Homo sapiens: one gene and its partner. The protein of the gene in region 1 interacts with the protein of each later gene in a pairwise test. Each region holds a gene or a part of one and is shown on either strand. Other genes may lie near its edges. The genes, in order: SNX4 and PTPN5.

Evidence for each region.
Region 2: the proteins of SNX4 (region 1) and PTPN5 interact in a two-hybrid assay, tested with the Homo sapiens proteins (one large-scale study listed by BioGRID and IntAct).

The regions. Positions count from the first base shown.
Region 1 is NC_000003.12:125,453,983-125,457,801, reverse strand, and holds part of SNX4 (sorting nexin-4), read left to right. Parts: intron 1-436; coding exon 437-536; intron 537-3,819. UniProt on the Homo sapiens protein: Involved in the regulation of endocytosis and in several stages of intracellular trafficking. Plays a role in recycling endocytosed transferrin receptor and prevent its degradation.
Region 2 is NC_000011.10:18,781,778-18,785,596, reverse strand, and holds part of PTPN5 (tyrosine-protein phosphatase non-receptor type 5), read left to right. Parts: intron 1-3,819. UniProt on the Homo sapiens protein: May regulate the activity of several effector molecules involved in synaptic plasticity and neuronal cell survival, including MAPKs, Src family kinases and NMDA receptors.

The DNA of each region.
Region 1 (3,819 bases):
AGTTTGAGACCAGCCTGGCCAATATGGAGAATTCCCATCTCTACTAAAAATACAAAATTAGCTGGGTGTGGTGGCGCATGCCTGTAATCCCATCTACTAGGGAAGCTGAGGCAGGAGAATCATTTGAACCCGGGAGGCGGAGGTTGCAGTGAGCCGAGATCGCGCCATTGCACTCCAGCCTGGGCAACAAGAGCAAAACTCTGTCTCAAAAAAAAAAAAAAAAAAAAAAGAATATATGAAGTTTTTATGGTTAGGTTCTGCTAGATTCCATTAGATTCCATTTTTAATGTTGGGCTACTACATTTTAAACTTGAAAATTCTGGGCACACACATTCTGCCCTAGCGAGACATTGTGAATGGTTCTCCTCTACCCTTGAAAAAAATGTTTGACATGTTAAAGGAAAAGTTAAATGGCAGCACATTTTTTCATCTGTAGGGCTGTGTGCAGGAAACATGAACTTATGCAGTATGACTTGGAGATGGCTGCTCAGGACTTAGCATCCAAGAAGCAGCAGTGTGAGGAACTGGTAACTGGGGTGAGTATTTTCCTTTTGGCCTCTGATGATACTGTAGCAACACGGAATGTTCCTCACAAGCACTCACTCTGAGTGAGTAACTCACTCCTGTAGAATCAGTTCCAGTTACAATACTCAGGACGGCTGAACCTTTTACAGGGGAATAATTTGTGAGTAACTTTATAATTCTTTTATTATTATCTTGATACAAAATGATGTAAGCCATTAAAACCATGTACTGTATAGAATTATAAGAAATTTTGCCAACATTTCTCTGGTGTAATCAGTATCATCCGGTTTCGTTTTAAAAAAAAAAAAAATTATTGGGCTGGGCACGGTGGCTCACACCTGTAATCCCAGCACTTTGGGAGGCCAAGGCCAGTGGATCACCTGAGGTCAGGAGTTCGAGATTAGCCTGGCCAACATGGTGAAACCCGATCTCTACTAGAAATACAAAAATTAGCCAGGTGTGGTGCCTCACGCCTGTAGTCCCAGCTACTCGGGAAGGTGAGGCAGAAGAATTGCTTGAACCAGGGAATCGGAGGTTGCAGTGACCCGAGGTCACGCCACTGCACTCCAGCCTGGGTGACAGAGCAAGACTCCATCTCAAAAAAATTGTTTTTATTAATTTTTATTTTTTGAGACAAGGTCTGGTTCTGTTTCCCAGGCTGGAGTGCAGTGGTATGATCAGGGCTCATGGAAGCCTCAAACTCCTGGGATCAAGTGGTCTTCCTGCCTCAGCCTCTTGAGTAGTTGGGACCACAGGCATGTGCCCCCATGCCTGGCTAATTTTGTTTATAGTCTCATCATGTTGACCAGGGTGGTCTCAAACTCCTGGACTCAAGTGATCCTCCCACCTCCGCCTCCCAAAGTGCTAGGATTACAGGGGTAAGCCACCATGCCTAGTCTATCATCTGGTTTCTAAGTCCAAGTGAAAAAACATGCAGTGACCTTTATCAGGTTTAACTTTGCAAGGTACTTTGCAGAAATTTTAGTTGACTTTGAAAAGCCTTACCCACTTAGAACCAGTGCATCTCGCCTAACAGGGAGCTTTTGATGTACTTTATTCTTTAATGCTTACAGTGAGTACTTGTGAGGAAAATTCTGTACCTGATTGCATTAGTCTTGGATCATTTTTATAATCAGCTTTCTACTCCAGTTATTTCATTGCAATAAATCAGCCATCATGGTGAGCAACACACATTCTGAAAGTAGTAAACCAGCAGCAATGTCTCTACTTAGTTAATAAGCACTGTAGTTTTTGTTTGTTTGTTTGTTTGTTTTTAGACCGAGTTTCGCTCTGTTGCCCAGGTTAGAGTGTGGCTCACTGCAAGCTCCACCTCCTGGGTTCACACCATTCTCCTGCCTCAGCCTCCTGAATAGCTGGGACTACAGGCGCCTGCCACCACGCCCGACCAATTTTTTTTTTGCACTTTTAGTACAGACGGGGTTTCACCATGTTAGCCAAGATGGTCTGAATCTCCTGACCTCGTGATCCGCCCGCCTCGGCCACCCAAAGTGCTGGGATTATAGGCATGAGCCAGCGCGCCTGGCCAAGCACTATAGTTTTAAAAGTGCTTTTCACAGAGATTACCCACTGGCTACATCTGTGAAAAGTCACAGATATATGTGGGGAAAGACTTGTGACCAGGACACATGTATAAACTAGGCCCTTGGTTTATTTTTAAAACTCAGTGGGAGAAGTTCCCAGGCCATTTTCAGGGAGCTTGGTTCTCTATCCTACATGTCAAGGGAAAAGTGTTTTCTTCAGTAAACTCCAGAGAGTGAGGAAATGTTAAAGCAGTGAAGCTTGGGGTTGCCTTCCCATGCTTGGATTTAGGTATCCTGTTTTATTAATAGATGCCCAAGTTTGAGCGTTGAGTTATGCAGATTTTAAATATGCTTCTTTAGTTTGGTTTATTTCCATAGTTGCCTAGTGAATTTATCGACTTTTTTTATAACATAAAGTAATTTTTAAAATATCATTCATACAGAGTAAGAAATAACGTCTAATATTTCACGTGGAAGTTTTCCATTTGATTATGAAATTCAAGCCGGGTATGGTAGCTTACAATGGCAATCCCGACACCTTTAGCAGCAGAGGCGTAAACCCAGAATTGCTTGAGCCCAGGAATTTGAGACCAGTGTGGATTAATATAGCTAGACCCTGTCTTTACCAAAAATTTAAAAATTAGCTGGGTGTGGTGGCATGCACCTGTGGTCCCAGCCACTTGGGAGGCAGAGGTGGGAGGATCACTTGAGCCCAGGAGGTTGAGGCTGCAGTGAGCCATGATTGTGCCATTACATTCTAGCCTGGGCAACAGAGCAAGACCCCATTTCAAAAAAAAAAAGAAATTCAGTTAGAAGTGTCTTCTTTTTGACTACTCCATATTATTTCAGTGTTAGAAATTCTATTAGGATTCTTGGCTATGACTCTGTAAAAATAAATAAAAACTCATATAAGAGATCCCTGGTTGTGAAGCTTATGGTGGTTTTGTCTGACTTAGGGGAAATATGGCAAATGTTTTCTATTTCCTTTGTGTGTGTAGTGAAATATATATAACATAAAATGTACCATCTTGTCCATTTTTAAGTATATAGTTCAGTAGTGCAGTCATCCCTCAGTATCTTCAGTGAGATTGGTTTAAGGATCCCTGGGATACCAAAATCCTCAGATGCTTAAGTCCCTTCTATAAAATGGTGTAGTATTTGCATGTAACCTGTGCATATCCTTTTGTATACTTTAAATCAGCAGTCGCCAACCTTTTTGGCACTAGGGACCTGTTTTGTGGAAGACAGTTTTTCCATGGACCAGGGCAGGGGGTGCTGAGGATGATTTCGGGATGAAACTGTTTCATTTCAGATCATCTCAGGCATTAGATTTTCACAAGGAACACACAACCTGGATCCCTCACATGCGCAGTTCACAATAGGGTTCGTGCTCCTAAGAGAATCTAATGCCTCTGCTGCTGATCTGACAGGAGGCAGAGCTCAGGTGGTCGCTTGCCTCCTGCTATGCAGCCTGGTTCCAAACAGGCCATGGACTGGTATCACTCCGTGGCTCTGGGGTTGGGGACCCCCTGCTTTAAATTATCTCTAGATTATTAATACCTAATACAGTGTAAACACTGGTGTCTCATATAAGTGGAATCATACAGTATTTGTCTTTTTGTATCTGTCTTATTTCACTTAGCATAATGTCCTGCAGGTTTATCCATGTTGTAGCATATATCAGATTTGATTCCTTTTAAAGGCTGAATAATGTTCCATTGTATGTGTATGTGTATGCCGCATTTTGTTTATC
Region 2 (3,819 bases), on another chromosome or scaffold:
GTATTTCATCATCTGCCTAAAGATGTTGTCTGGTATAAATTATAAATTACAGTTGTGAAAATAACCATACTCCATGCTAGAGAACAAACGTAAGATGAACCATCATTTTATATGCCCTATTCTATGTTTTCTGTAAATCTGTATTTTGTAATAGTTGAAATTAGTCCACATATAGGTTTATAGCCTGCATTTTTCACTTAACATTTTGTCATGACTTCTCTGTTTATACTTGGTTGGCTGACCCCTGCTTTATTTAACTATGTCTTTATTGTTGCACATAGTCAATAATGAGCATCTCCAGGCACATAGCTTTTCCATCTCAGAGTCTCAAAGCATCCATCTGAAGCACCCTCAAGAGATATGATGGGATCAAGGTGGTTAAAGAGGGGTGCAAGGAAAAGAACATGTCGTGGCCCTGGCGTCTGGAGTAGAAAAAGAACAGGGAGCTTGGTGCAGTGGCTCATGCCTGTAATCCCAGCACTTTGGGAGGCTGAGGCAGGGGATCATTTGGGGTCAGGAGTTTGAGACCAGCCTGGCCAACACGGTGAAACTCTGTCCCTAGTAAAAATATAAAAATTAGCCAGGCATGGTGGCGCACACCTGCAGCCCCTCCTACTCAGGAGGCTGAGGCATGAGAATTGCTTGAACCCAGGAGGCAGAGGTTGCAGTGAGCCAAGATAGCGCCGCTGCACTCCAGCCTGGGTGACAGAGTGAGACCCTGTCTCAAAAAGAAAAAAAGAAAAAGAACAGGGAACCCAAGAGTTGGAACCAAGGAGAGGATGGAGAGGAAGATAGATCATGGGCCAGGGGGTCAAGGTCACAGAGCCCTAGGGGTGGCAGAGGGACATGCAGCTCTGTCAGATTTCAGAGGGAAGTCTGTCCTTCCAGTGTTTTGTTTGTTTGGTGTGGGAGGCTTTTATTAAATTGTGGTAAAATACACATAACACGAAATTTACCATTTTAACCAATGTTAACTGTATAATTTTGTGGCGTTAAGTATATTTACAGTGTTATACAACCATCACCACTGTCCATCTCCAGAATCTTTTTATCTTCCCAGACTGAATCGCTGTACTCATTAAATACTAATTCCTCATTCCCATCTCCCCCAGCCTCTGGTGACCTCCGTTCTACTTTCTGTCTCCATAAATTCACCTATTCTAGGTGCCTCGTGTAAGTGGCATCATGTTTGTCTTTTTTTGTCTGGCTTCTTTCACTTAGCCTAATGTTTTCAAGGGTCGTCTCTGTGGTATCATATATCAGAATCTCATTTATTTTCAAAGCTGAATATATTCCATTGTATGGATATACCACATTGTTTGGCCATTCATCTGTTTCCACCTTTTGGCTATTGTGAATAATACGGCTATGAACATTGGTGTGCCAGGATCTGTTTGAGCCCCCGCTTTCAATTCTTTGGGGTATATACCTCGCAGTGGAATTGCTGGATCGTATGATCATTCTGTGTTTCACTTTTTGAGAGGTGCAGGGTGCATTTTTTAAAAAGGATTTTTGTGTGCCCAGTATGAAGACCACTGAGTGAAGTCTTAGGAATAGAGAGTCCAGGAAGAAGCTGTTAATTTAAAAACTAAATGTTGTTTGGGTTCTGCATGGCCATGGAGGTAACAGAGAAGAGAGAAGAGGGAACAGAATACAAATGAGTCTGACTCCGTTTCTGAAGAATTGTTGTGATTTAGAGGCATTGTGGGTGGAAAAAGAAAGCTCTCAGGAGAGATCTTAGTGGGTGGAATTGATTCAAGCATGCAAGTATTTACTGTACCAGGCACTGTGGTGGACACAAGGCCCTCAGCAATCAACACGACCACAAGGACCCTGCCCGCAAGGAGCTTAATGTCTAGTGGAGGTGCCAGAGGAGTCACCTGGCAACAGTGGTCTGTACTGATGCATTCTAGGCTCATCATAAGCACTCACTCTTACTGAGTGCTTACTACATTATCTCAATCTTGGTGACAGTTCAGTGAAGACGGTTTCTGTTATCCTCAATTTGCAGGTGAGGAAACAGAGAGCTTGAGTAACTCTATTTCAGGTACGCACAGCAAGAGTCAGAGCCAGAATTTAAACCTAGGCAGTAACTGTGCTCTGTAGGGCTGTGGGAACACAGGAGAGACACCTGCCCAGGACGGAGGTCAGAGAAGGCTTTCCGAAGGCAGGGGTCAGGTGAGTATTTTCACGCAAGTCAGCTGTGTTCTTCTTTAGCCCATGATGTAAAACAGTGCTTTCCTATAGTAGCAGCAGTAGCGTTCAGCCCTGCTTCCAGGGACTCTAGACACTCAGGGAGACCCCTTCACTGAGACTCCACTTCAGAGGAAGATGATCACTTCTATCATCCTTGCTGCTTATCATGAGGCAGGGAGGCTGGGGGTGAGGCATTGCCATTTCCCACTGCCATCTGCTGCCTCTGCTACTTCCCTAGCTGGTCAGCATCTGAGGTACCTCAGAGGGACCTCCTGGGGCCCCTTCGGGGCAGCATCAGGCCAGTGGGCTAAGAGTTAGGCAAATACGAGGCCTAGGAGTGGCAGTGAAAATCATATATCCACCTTCTGTGCCACATCACTGTCCCAAGATACTCCCACCACCACAGAGCCCTGTCTTACCAAAGTACAGATGTGGCCAAGTCTCTGGTGTTTCCATCCTTCTGTGGCTCCCCATAGCTTGCAGCCGTATTTCTCAACAGGGACCTACTGGCCTTTGGGTGGGAGAGTTCTTTGATGTAAAAGCATCCCTGGCCCCATCTCCTATATATTTGCCTGGAGCACCCTTCAGTCATTATAACAACCAAAAATGCTCACACATGTTCTTCAGGTTTACTTTACAAGCAGTCCAATGTATAGATCTTAAGTGTTCTGTTCAGTGCATTTTGACAACTGCATGAGCTCATATAACCATCACCAAGAGCAAGACTCAGAAGATTTCCATCACCCGCAAAAGTTCAGAGATAACGATTATTCCAATTTCTATCATTGTAGATGGATTTTGTCTGTTCCTAATCGTCATATAAGTGGAATCATATAGTACATGCTCTTTTGTGTCATGAAATAGTTTTTAAGAAGCCAGACGCAGTGGCTCATACCTGTAACCCCAGCACTTTGGAAGGCCAAGACGGGTGGATCATCTGAGGTCAGGAGTTCGAGACCAGCCTAGCCAACATGGTGAAATCCCATCTCTACTAAAAATACAAAAATTAGCTGGGCATGGTGGTACACACCTGTAGTCCCAGCTACTCGGGAGGCTGAGGCAGGAGAATCCCTGGAACCTGGGAGGTGGAGGTTGCAGTGAGCCAAGATCATGCCACTGCACTCAAGCCTGGGTGACAGAACGAGACTCCATCTCCAAAAAAAAAAAAAGACATAGTTTTTGAGATCCATCCACGTTGTCACGTTTTCCCCACTAACCCCCAATACACACACAGATTTCTAAATGCCAACTAGCATGGCAATACCTGCCTCTGTCCCCCTGAGAAAAAATGGCCTGTGAGTCAAAGTTAGTGTGTCTTAGGCTGATTCATGAAGCCGTCTGCTGTGTGACAAGAGTCCCTCTTACGTCTACTCTGTGGCTACACTGAGCTGCCTCGTCTGCCTGGCATACCTTGTGCTTTCACCTCTCCGGGCCTTTGCCCTGCAGTGTTCCCTGCCTGGAATGTCCTCCCTGTATCTGGTGAACTCCTGCTTGTCCTTCGGGTCTCTTCTGTGCAGCTTCCCAGACTCTGTTTTTGTGCCCTCCTGAGTGCTCCCATAAGACAGCCTCAGTGGGCCTTTAATGCATTTCTCACTCAACTCACTAGGCCGAATGCTGGGTGGA